2 linked regions of the Homo sapiens genome follow. The gene in region 1 interacts genetically with each later gene. Each region holds a gene or a part of one and is shown on either strand. Other genes may lie near its edges. The genes, in order: ITLN1 and BCL2.

Region 1 (7,619 bases):
ACTGGGCACAGTGGTTCACACCTATAATCCCAGCACTTTGGGAGAATGAGGTGGGAGAATCACTTGAGCCCAGGAGTTAGAGACCAGCCTGGGGAACATAGTGAGACCCCATCTCTAAAAAAAATTAGAAAATTATCTGGGTGTGGTGGCATGTGCCTGTAGTCTCAGCTACTCAGGAGGCAGAGGTGGGAGTATCGCTTGAGCCCAGGAGGTCAAGGCTGCAATTAGCCATGATTGTACCACTGCACCCCAGCCTGGGTGACAGAGCAAGACCATGTCTCAAAAAAAAAAAAAAAAAAAAAATCGAATATTTGTCTTGGACCTAGATACAGTCTATTTCCTTTTGTTAATATATCTGAAAATATATAGTTCAATATTTTCTCTCCACAAATAAAGTATTAGCTTAACAAATATGGTGCCTCATAAACCTTTTCTTAAGAACTGCTGTGAGAAACATGTAAACAGTGAAAAGGTCATGTTATCGTGTTAAGATAATAATGGGCATAAGGGATGTGGCAACACCGGGCAGGAAGTGATCCATCCCATTGTTGAGGGAGAAGAGGCATGAGTGACATTTATGCTCAGGAAATTGAGGAGTGACACTGGGACAGAAATGGCAAAGCAGGTATTGAAGCATCAGAGGAAGTTTGTCCTGGATCAGTGATTCCAAAATGTAGTCTGGGGGCCAGTGCTACTCTAGAATGACCCCCCACCAAAAGAGTGTTTTCATTGGTTTGTAGCAAAATGAGAAAAGTAAGAAAAAATATTATTTTTCATAAAACTAAATTTATTCAAGCTGAAAATTTATATTTATTTTGATACTTTGTCTTTCCTGTGCTGTCATTGAGATATATATATATCTTACAAATATATATATATCTCACAAATATATATATATTTGTGAAATCAGTTGTATTTCTATATATAAGCATCAAACAATTAGAAAATAAAATTTCAAAAATATGGCATTTATAATAGCATCAAAAATGTCAAACACTGCCAGCATGGTGGCTCACGCCTGTAATCCCAACACTTTGGAAGGCCAAGGGTGTGAGGATTGCTTGAGCCCAGGAGTTTGAGACCAGCTTGGGCAACATAGTGAGATCCCATCTCTACAAAAAATAAAACAATTAGTTGGCCGTGGTGATATTTACCTGTGTTCTCAGCTACTTAGGAGGCTGAGGTGGGAGAATCACTTGCCTGGGTGACAGAGTGAGACCCTGTCTAAAAAAAGAAAAAAAAAGTCAAATACTAAGGAACAAATAGCAAATCATACACAAAATCCCTATAAGGAAGCTATAAGATACGAAAAAGCAATAAAAACACAAATAAATGAAGAAACAGGCCACACTCAATATTTTAAAGACGTAAATTATTTCTAAATGATCTATAGATTCAATGTAATTCCAATAAAATCCTAAAGGGTGTGTGCATGTGTGTGTGTGTGTGTGTGTGTGTGTGTGTGTGTGTATGTGTAGAGGTAAACGACCAAGAATAACCAAAAAAGAAGAGCAAAGTGAGAAGCCTTGCTCTACTGGATATCAAGACATTTTATCAATCTAAAATATTTGGAACAATGTGGTATGGGCACAAGGAAGTGCTGATTTCCATCACAGTCAGGCCAGTAATTACCTTTGGGAAGGGAGAGGTCTGTTATCTGGAAGCAGCATATGGGAAGCTTCTGGGTGCTGCTAAAGTTTCATTTCTTAGCTAGGATGATAATTACACAGGTATTTGCCTTTCTTGTAATTTATTAAACTGCACATTTAATGTTTTATATCTTTCTCTGTATGTGTAATTTTACAACAAACCTTCTCCAAGTCACTGGAGATGTAGATGTGGGGCTGGAGTGAGTTGGTGGTGAGGGGCTTTCTTCCACACTCTTCTATCTTCATGCACATCTATACTGTCACATACGTACCTATACTCTCAGCACTTTGGGAGGCTGAGGCAGGATTGTTTGTGCCTAGGAGTTCGAGACCAGCCTGGCCAACATGGTGAGAACTCGTTTCTACCAAAAATACAAAAGTTAGCAGGGTGTGGTGGTGTGTGCCTGTATTCCCAGGTGCTTGGGAGGCTGAGGTGGGAGGATCACCTGAGCCTGGAAGGTTGAGGCTGCAGTAAGCTGAGATTGTGTCACTGCACTCCATCCAGCCTGGGCAACAGAGTGAGACCCTGTCTCAACATAAATAAATAAATAAAATAAAATAAAGAGAAGCTGCTGTCAAGCAAGCCTGGATCTTGCCCTCTCTCTCGATTTTCTATTTCATGAGGTAATAGATTTACTTTTTAGAAAAGCCACTTTGAGATGGGGTTTCTATTAGTTACAGCTACAAGGAACCAGACTGAACTAAATAAATGTCCAGGGCAGTGGGGTTTGGAGGAAGTTGTGTGGGGAACAGATTCAAGAGGAAGTAGGGGTAGAATCAATGGGACGCAATCACTGATTGGATGATGATGGTTAGAAGGGGTAATGTCCTTAAAATGGATGTACTGTTTTCCCAGTCTATTAGATGGCATCATGTACCATTAAGGATGAGATGCATAATGATATTAAAGATGTCAAAATACAAAAAAAGTGTCTTAGAATCAACTAAAGAAAGTAGTATAAGTGTATATTTTCTTTTTTTATTTTTGCAAATATGTTACTGTTTTATTAAGCCATAAAGTTTTCAGGTGGTTAGTTACACACAGTAATGAACAACTGAGGGGATGTTTAATTTTTTTCTCTAGATCTTGGGCCCTTGGTGTTAACTTTATATACATGTATTTACTATTGTGAACTGTAAACTTAGAGACCTCTATTTTTTTTTTTTTTTTTTGAGATGGAATTTCACTCTTGTTGCCCAGGCTGGAGTGCAATGGTGCGATCTCAGCTCACTGCAACCTCTGCCTCCCGGGTTCAAGCAATTCTCCTGCCTCAGCCTCCCGAGTAGCTTGGATTACAGGCGCCTGACACCGTGCCCAGCTAATTTTATATTTTTAGTAGAGACACGGTTTCACCGTGTTGATCAGGCTGGTCTTGAACTCCTGACCTCAAGTGATTGGCCACCCTCGTCCCCTCAAAGTGCTGGGATTACAGGTGTAAGCCGCAGCGCCTGGCTGAGACCTCTATTTCTAAGAGGTTGTTGTTTGTAAATATGAAAGCTGGGTATGTTCATTTTGTTACCTATACTGATGAGTTAATTTAGTTTCTAATACATTTAATTTTATTTAATTAATTATTTTCCAGATACACAGAGCAAATAGCTTCTAATAGATTTTAAATTTACAAAAGTATAACTTTTTTTTGCAGTTTTTCTTCTTGGGTGCTATTTTATTTTCTTCTATCAATATGTGAGTATTTTTTGCAAATCAGTACTTTGAACCAACAAATAGGAAATATTAGCTTAACAAAAAAGATATTCACAATCTTTGTAAGAAAAGGTTGCAGTATTATTAATGCTATAATGACATTATGTATTAAATGTATGATATCACTGGGGAAGAACTGAGTAATTCTATTACAGCTGCAGGGTAGCATTTGAGAACTTCATGACATAGGAGCAGGAATAAGACAGGAGGTTCGAAGCAGCAGAGAGGTTTCGTATTGATTCAGTTTCAAATGAATCCTGTAGTAAATTTTCCCTCGTTTGTGGCAAAATGACAAAATTAAAGACAAAGTAGTGAGTCTTTGTGTGAAACTAAATTATTCAAACTAAAGATTTATATATTTTTTAAAACTTTTCTATTCGTATTTTTTTGTGTGTTTTGTATCTCTTTCCCCTCCATTCCTTTTTACCAATTTATTCAGAAATGATCACTTTCCCATTTTGTTAAAATTTCCTTTTTCTATTTCTATGAATTGATAATTATGGCCAATGATTAATTTCATTTATTTATTTATTTTGAGATACCTAAGCTGAAGTACAGTGGCACGGTCATATTTCACTGAATCCTCTATCTCTGGGACTTAAGTTACCCTTTTGCCTTGCCTCAGCCCCACCTGAAACTATAGGCAAGTACCACCATGCCATGCTAATTTTTTTACTTTTATTTTTAGTAGAGAAGAGGTTGCCCTATGTTGCCCAGGCTGGTCTCAAACTCCTGAGTTCAAGTGATCCTTCTGCCTTGGCCTCCCAAAGTATTGGGATTTGAGCCAATGTGCCAAGCCAACAGATGCTTAATTTAGAGAAAGTTTTTATTTTGCAAGAAAGAAAGGCACAAAAACCCAAAACCAACACCAACTCTTGTTAATCTCTTCGTCTACTTCCTACTTGACACAGGTCCATGAAACCCCCAGATCCAGGAACAACGCTAGCAGGTGATTCTTAGGATTGGTTTTTTCTTTAGAACCTGTTAATTCCACTGTATAAATAACCTCCCCGAGATAACCAGAAGCCTCCCCTGCACTGGGCATTGTGCCAGGGGAGGGTGAGGCTGGAAACCTTGGTTGGCCCCACTGGGCTTCCTCCATAAAGCTTTCTGCACCTCATTCCACATCAGGAGCGTTTTTGGAGAAAGCTGCACTCTGTTGAGCTCCAGGGCGCAGTGGAGGGAGGGAGTGAAGGAGCTCTCTGTACCCAAGGAAAGTGCAGCTGAGACTCAGACAAGGTCTGTGAGTTGGGGGAATCCTGTTTTCAGCTTAGGTCTGCTTTTGGTCTCAGAGATGTGTGAAGTTTAAACAAAAGGCAAGGGGTTTTGGAGTCTTTGTAAGACTGGACAGGGGTGGGGCAGGGATGTAGAGAAAAATGATGGCCAAGATGGTGACCTTCATCTTGCTTTCTTTAGATTACAATGAACCAACTCAGCTTCCTGCTGTTTCTCATAGCGACCACCAGAGGATGGAGTACAGGTGAGTCACGCTGCTAGGGACAGCAGTTCCTTCAGCTGGATGACTTCCGGGATCCTGGTCTCTCCCAGGACACAGAGCATGTCCTTGAGATGCACAGCGGCTGGCTTGCATGTAGACTGAGTGCCGATTTCTGGTCTCTGGCGGAATCTGGCCTGTGGCAGTGAAGGTATTGCTTGAGGCATGTCCTGGGTCCAGGCTCTGTGCTTTTGTGTGGCCCTGAGGGGGCTGTGGCAAGAACTGTGTCACCTTCCAGCCACTGCCCACTCCTGTGGCCTTGGCTGTGGGATTTCCATGGGAACTACATGGTCTGCTTTGTGCCTGGAGAATGTTCTCTCCACAGTTTTCCTCTCTACAACAAGAATAACAATGACATTTTAAAATTTATATTTTTCTTCACGTCTAAAAATTTTTTTTTTAAAGAAAAGGCTGTTTCGAAATATCTTCTTACTTCATCTTTGCAAAAGCACTGTTTATTAACTGTGTTTTAGGTATGAGGAAACTGAGGTCAGTCACCTCTGACCTCACAGCTTTCCCCTAGACTGTTCGAATAGTTTGCAGACTTTTTGGAGTAGAGATTAGTCTCACCACTCCCTACTTCACACCCCATGTTTCAGCCATATTAAGCAGCTTGTAGTTCTACAGCTGGACTACGCTGTATTTTTTTTTTTTTCTCTAGGCCTTTGGATATGCTGTTTTCCCTGCCTTGGATTGGCTTCCTACTGATAAATCATGTTTATTCTCTCAGAATAAGCTAAGATGTCACCTGGACTGGAAGGTCTTCTGTGACTAAGACATGAGACAACCCGTCTTGCCTTCTTCTCCCAGGCAACTGCCCCGCTTACTGTCTGGCGTTTCCATTCTCCACTGTTACCTCAGAGTCTTTCTTTTGTTCTCTTGAGTTTGCCTTTCTTCTACCATTTATTCTTGTCAATACAATTTTCTGTTGACTTGTTAGCAATTCCCTCTAGAGGCAAGCTCTTGCTGGGGAACTTTAATGTCTTTGATTACTCAGTGCTTAGGGCAGGACCCAGCACAAGGACAGGTCTTGTGGCGGGAGGCAGACTTTAAGCCTGTGCTGGCTGTCAGGTCGGATGGGCTGAGTGGATATGATGCCGATGGGCTGAGTGGATGTGACACTGATGGGCTGAGTGGATATGACACTGGCTGTCTCAGGCCTTACCACCCGGGCAGCGAGGTTCTGCTACAGTGGTGGAATGAGCGTGGGACTAGTGATAGGAGAGGGTAGGTTTTGTGTCAAACCGGGAATGAGAATAAACCCTGTGTATTCCCTAGATGAGGCTAATACTTACTTCAAGGAATGGACCTGTTCTTCGTCTCCATCTCTGCCCAGAAGCTGCAAGGAAATCAAAGACGAATGTCCTAGTGCATTTGGTGAGTGATGAAACATTCAAACAGAGCTCAGTCAGGGTATCAGGATTGTGTCTTCTGGGAGTCTTTTTGTCTTTTAGTTAAAAAATTATGGTAAAGTATATGTATATTATAATTTACATAAGATTTGCCATTTTAAGCAACATTAAGTGTGCAATTCAGTGGCATTAATTACCTTCAAGGTTGTGCAACCATCACAGCTATCCATATGCAGAACTTTTTCAGTGCCCCAAACAGAAACTCTGTACTTAATAACATGGAGGGGCCGGGTGCGGTGGCTCAGGCCTGTAATCCCAGCACTTTAGGAGGCTGAGAGGGGTGGATCAGTTGAGGCCAGGAGTTTGAAACCAGCTTGGCTAACATGGTGGGGCCCTGTCTCTACTAAAATACAAAAATCAATTGGGTGTGGAGTACATGTTTGTAATTCCAGCTACTTGGGAGGCTGAGGTGGGAGGATCGCTTGAACTCAGGAGGCAGAGGTTGCAGTGGGCCAAGATAGTGCCACTTCACTCCAGCCTGGGCAACAGAGTGAGACTCCATCTCAAAAACAAAAACAAAAACAAAACAAAACAAAAAATAACATGGAGTTATTAAGCAATAACTCTCTTCCCTCAGTCTCTGGTAGCTGCATTTTACTTTCTATCTCCATGAATTTGCCTAGTGTAGTTACCTCATGTAATTGGAGTCATATGGTATTTGTCCTTTGGTGTCTGGCTTATTTCACTTAGCACAGTGTTTTGAGGGTTTGTCCATGCTGTAGCATGGATATTTCATTCCCTTTTATCCACTGCAGATACATATATGCACACACACCATGTTTTGTTTATTCATTCACCTGTTGGTGAATATTTGAATTGTTTCTTCTATTTGGCTCTTGTGACTAATGCTGCAATGAACACTGGTGTAAAAGCATCAGCTTGAGGCCCTGTTTTCAATTCTTTTGGGGATAGACCTGCAGTGGAATTGCTGGGTCATACAATAATTCCATGTTTAACTTTATGAAAAATGTCACTGGGATTTTATACAATTCTATGTTCTGCCTCAGTTACAGGAGCATGATCTTCTGAACTCAGGGAGGCCCCAGTACCCCTGGGAGCACTTAGTGATGTGAGTCAGGACAGGAGCCTTTAGGCCATGTCTCTGGTTCCTAGGGCCTTTCTTGTCATGGGGCTGAAATGAACCCTCAGCTCTCAGACAGGGAGGCTCTGGGCTGGTTCTCTCTACAGATGGCCTGTATTTTCTCCGCACTGAGAATGGTGTTATCTACCAGACCTTCTGTGACATGACCTCTGGGGGTGGCGGCTGGACCCTGGTGGCCAGCGTGCACGAGAATGACATGCGTGGGAAGTGCACGGTGGGCGATCGCTGGTCCAGTCAGCAGGGCAGCAAAGCAGTC
Region 2 (5,214 bases), on another chromosome or scaffold:
GATGGGAAAAATGCCCTTAAATCATAGGAAAGTATTTTTTTAAGCTACCAATTGTGCCGAGAAAAGCATTTTAGCAATTTATACAATATCATCCAGTACCTTAAGCCCTGATTGTGTATATTCATATATTTTGGATACGCACCCCCCAACTCCCAATACTGGCTCTGTCTGAGTAAGAAACAGAATCCTCTGGAACTTGAGGAAGTGAACATTTCGGTGACTTCCGCATCAGGAAGGCTAGAGTTACCCAGAGCATCAGGCCGCCACAAGTGCCTGCTTTTAGGAGACCGAAGTCCGCAGAACCTGCCTGTGTCCCAGCTTGGAGGCCTGGTCCTGGAACTGAGCCGGGGCCCTCACTGGCCTCCTCCAGGGATGATCAACAGGGCAGTGTGGTCTCCGAATGTCTGGAAGCTGATGGAGCTCAGAATTCCACTGTCAAGAAAGAGCAGTAGAGGGGTGTGGCTGGGCCTGTCACCCTGGGGCCCTCCAGGTAGGCCCGTTTTCACGTGGAGCATGGGAGCCACGACCCTTCTTAAGACATGTATCACTGTAGAGGGAAGGAACAGAGGCCCTGGGCCCTTCCTATCAGAAGGACATGGTGAAGGCTGGGAACGTGAGGAGAGGCAATGGCCACGGCCCATTTTGGCTGTAGCACATGGCACGTTGGCTGTGTGGCCTTGGCCCACCTGTGAGTTTAAAGCAAGGCTTTAAATGACTTTGGAGAGGGTCACAAATCCTAAAAGAAGCATTGAAGTGAGGTGTCATGGATTAATTGACCCCTGTCTATGGAATTACATGTAAAACATTATCTTGTCACTGTAGTTTGGTTTTATTTGAAAACCTGACAAAAAAAAAGTTCCAGGTGTGGAATATGGGGGTTATCTGTACATCCTGGGGCATTAAAAAAAAAATCAATGGTGGGGAACTATAAAGAAGTAACAAAAGAAGTGACATCTTCAGCAAATAAACTAGGAAATTTTTTTTTCTTCCAGTTTAGAATCAGCCTTGAAACATTGATGGAATAACTCTGTGGCATTATTGCATTATATACCATTTATCTGTATTAACTTTGGAATGTACTCTGTTCAATGTTTAATGCTGTGGTTGATATTTCGAAAGCTGCTTTAAAAAAATACATGCATCTCAGCGTTTTTTTGTTTTTAATTGTATTTAGTTATGGCCTATACACTATTTGTGAGCAAAGGTGATCGTTTTCTGTTTGAGATTTTTATCTCTTGATTCTTCAAAAGCATTCTGAGAAGGTGAGATAAGCCCTGAGTCTCAGCTACCTAAGAAAAACCTGGATGTCACTGGCCACTGAGGAGCTTTGTTTCAACCAAGTCATGTGCATTTCCACGTCAACAGAATTGTTTATTGTGACAGTTATATCTGTTGTCCCTTTGACCTTGTTTCTTGAAGGTTTCCTCGTCCCTGGGCAATTCCGCATTTAATTCATGGTATTCAGGATTACATGCATGTTTGGTTAAACCCATGAGATTCATTCAGTTAAAAATCCAGATGGCAAATGACCAGCAGATTCAAATCTATGGTGGTTTGACCTTTAGAGAGTTGCTTTACGTGGCCTGTTTCAACACAGACCCACCCAGAGCCCTCCTGCCCTCCTTCCGCGGGGGCTTTCTCATGGCTGTCCTTCAGGGTCTTCCTGAAATGCAGTGGTGCTTACGCTCCACCAAGAAAGCAGGAAACCTGTGGTATGAAGCCAGACCTCCCCGGCGGGCCTCAGGGAACAGAATGATCAGACCTTTGAATGATTCTAATTTTTAAGCAAAATATTATTTTATGAAAGGTTTACATTGTCAAAGTGATGAATATGGAATATCCAATCCTGTGCTGCTATCCTGCCAAAATCATTTTAATGGAGTCAGTTTGCAGTATGCTCCACGTGGTAAGATCCTCCAAGCTGCTTTAGAAGTAACAATGAAGAACGTGGACGTTTTTAATATAAAGCCTGTTTTGTCTTTTGTTGTTGTTCAAACGGGATTCACAGAGTATTTGAAAAATGTATATATATTAAGAGGTCACGGGGGCTAATTGCTGGCTGGCTGCCTTTTGCTGTGGGGTTTTGTTACCTGGTTTTAATAACAGTAAATGTGCCCAGCCTCTTGGCCCCAGAACTGTACAGTATTGTGGCTGCACTTGCTCTAAGAGTAGTTGATGTTGCATTTTCCTTATTGTTAAAAACATGTTAGAAGCAATGAATGTATATAAAAGCCTCAACTAGTCATTTTTTTCTCCTCTTCTTTTTTTTCATTATATCTAATTATTTTGCAGTTGGGCAACAGAGAACCATCCCTATTTTGTATTGAAGAGGGATTCACATCTGCATCTTAACTGCTCTTTATGAATGAAAAAACAGTCCTCTGTATGTACTCCTCTTTACACTGGCCAGGGTCAGAGTTAAATAGAGTATATGCACTTTCCAAATTGGGGACAAGGGCTCTAAAAAAAGCCCCAAAAGGAGAAGAACATCTGAGAACCTCCTCGGCCCTCCCAGTCCCTCGCTGCACAAATACTCCGCAAGAGAGGCCAGAATGACAGCTGACAGGGTCTATGGCCATCGGGTCGTCTCCGAAGATTTGGCAGGGGCAGAAAACTCTGGCAGGCTTAAGATTTGGAATAAAGTCACAGAATTAAGGAAGCACCTCAATTTAGTTCAAACAAGACGCCAACATTCTCTCCACAGCTCACTTACCTCTCTGTGTTCAGATGTGGCCTTCCATTTATATGTGATCTTTGTTTTATTAGTAAATGCTTATCATCTAAAGATGTAGCTCTGGCCCAGTGGGAAAAATTAGGAAGTGATTATAAATCGAGAGGAGTTATAATAATCAAGATTAAATGTAAATAATCAGGGCAATCCCAACACATGTCTAGCTTTCACCTCCAGGATCTATTGAGTGAACAGAATTGCAAATAGTCTCTATTTGTAATTGAACTTATCCTAAAACAAATAGTTTATAAATGTGAACTTAAACTCTAATTAATTCCAACTGTACTTTTAAGGCAGTGGCTGTTTTTAGACTTTCTTATCACTTATAGTTAGTAATGTACACCTACTCTATCAGAGAAAAACAGGAAAGGCTCGAAATACAAGCCATTCTAAGGAAATTAGGGAGTCAGTTGAAATTCTATTCTGATCTTATTCTGTGGTGTCTTTTGCAGCCCAGACAAATGTGGTTACACACTTTTTAAGAAATACAATTCTACATTGTCAAGCTTATGAAGGTTCCAATCAGATCTTTATTGTTATTCAATTTGGATCTTTCAGGGATTTTTTTTTTAAATTATTATGGGACAAAGGACATTTGTTGGAGGGGTGGGAGGGAGGAAGAATTTTTAAATGTAAAACATTCCCAAGTTTGGATCAGGGAGTTGGAAGTTTTCAGAATAACCAGAACTAAGGGTATGAAGGACCTGTATTGGGGTCGATGTGATGCCTCTGCGAAGAACCTTGTGTGACAAATGAGAAACATTTTGAAGTTTGTGGTACGACCTTTAGATTCCAGAGACATCAGCATGGCTCAAAGTGCAGCTCCGTTTGGCAGTGCAATGGTATAAATTTCAAGCTGGATATGTCTAATGGGTATTTAAACAATAAATGTGCAGTTTTAACTAACAGGATATTTAATGACAACCTTCTGGTTGGTAGGGACATCTGTTTCTAAATGTTTATTATGTACAATACAGAAAAAAATTTTATAAAATTAAGCAATGTGAAACTGAATTGGAGAGTGATAATACAAGTCCTTTAGTCTTACCCAGTGAATCATTCTGTTCCATGTCTTTGGACAACCATGACCTTGGACAATCATGAAATATGCATCTCACTGGATGCAAAGAAAATCAGATGGAGCATGAATGGTACTGTACCGGTTCATCTGGACTGCCCCAGAAAAATAACTTCAAGCAAACATCCTATCAACAACAAGGTTGTTCTGCATACCAAGCTGAGCACAGAAGATGGGAACACTGGTGGAGGATGGAAAGGCTCGCTCAATCAAGAAAATTCTGAGACTATTAATAAATAAGACTGTAGTGTAGATACTGAGTAAATCCATGCACCTAAACCTTTTGGAAAATCTGCCGTGGGCCCTCCAGATAGCTCATTTCATTAAGTTTTTCCCTCCAAGGTAGAATTTGCAAGAGTGACAGTGGATTGCATTTCTTTTGGGGAAGCTTTCTTTTGGTGGTTTTGTTTATTATACCTTCTTAAGTTTTCAACCAAGGTTTGCTTTTGTTTTGAGTTACTGGGGTTATTTTTGTTTTAAATAAAAATAAGTGTACAATAAGTGTTTTTGTATTGAAAGCTTTTGTTATCAAGATTTTCATACTTTTACCTTCCATGGCTCTTTTTAAGATTGATACTTTTAAGAGGTGGCTGATATTCTGCAACACTGTACACATAAAAAATACGGTAAGGATACTTTACATGGTTAAGGTAAAGTAAGTCTCCAGTTGGCCACCATTAGCTATAATGGCACTTTGTTTGTGTTGTTGGAAAAAGTCACATTGCCATTAAACTTTCCTTGTCTGTCTAGTTAATATTGTGAAGAAAAATAAAGTACAGTGTGAGATACTGGTTGTGCCTGGAATTGTTTATAATGTGTTAACATGATTTTGCCCTGCCATTCATCATCATTACACAAGACTTTGAAAAGCCTTCTTAACAAGCCAGTAAAATCACCAGGACCCTACTCTAATGAAGCCCTCAGGGACCAGGCTAAGGGATTGCCTTACAGGTGAAACCACCTTAGAAGGAGACTCTTGTTTCTTGGTAATAACCCTCCTGGTTAGGTACAAGATAGACCAGTCTTGAGTTCTACTCCCTGGGAGAGCTACTGTTGCTGTTGAGTGTGTTCTTCCATATAGACCAGAGATCCCAGCCTCTGCATTTTATAAGATGAAATGTGTATGAAAAAGAGGGAAATAAGCTGAAAGTTCTGTTTTGAAGTCAACATTTTTAGATGGAACCAAAGCAGCTACTTGCTTTGGAGCAGGTGAACCCTAAATGGCAAGGGATCTGATGTTTCCCACTGGGTTCAGGTCCTGATACCCTAATCCTCAACCCTTCAAGTCACATCACTTAGACTCAATTAAAAGGACTCTGATAGTAGCATTCATCTGTTGAGCACCTGCTGGATACAACACTGTATGCATACTACCTTTTGCTCTCAAACCTTTCAAGGTAGGTAT

What was found.
Region 2: of ITLN1 (region 1) and BCL2, extra expression of one rescues a mutant of the other (dosage rescue), as found in Homo sapiens cells (one study listed by BioGRID).

What each region holds. Positions count from the first base shown.
Region 1 is NC_000001.11:160,882,035-160,889,653, reverse strand, and holds the start of ITLN1 (intelectin-1 precursor), read left to right. Parts: upstream 1-4,473; 5' UTR 4,474-4,593; intron 4,594-4,770; 5' UTR 4,771-4,776; coding exon 4,777-4,834; intron 4,835-6,127; coding exon 6,128-6,226; intron 6,227-7,449; coding exon 7,450-7,619. UniProt on the Homo sapiens protein: Lectin that specifically recognizes microbial carbohydrate chains in a calcium-dependent manner.
Region 2 is NC_000018.10:63,122,732-63,127,945, reverse strand, and holds the end of BCL2 (apoptosis regulator Bcl-2), read left to right. Parts: 3' UTR 1-4,600; downstream 4,601-5,214. UniProt on the Homo sapiens protein: Suppresses apoptosis in a variety of cell systems including factor-dependent lymphohematopoietic and neural cells. Regulates cell death by controlling the mitochondrial membrane permeability. Appears to function in a feedback loop system with caspases.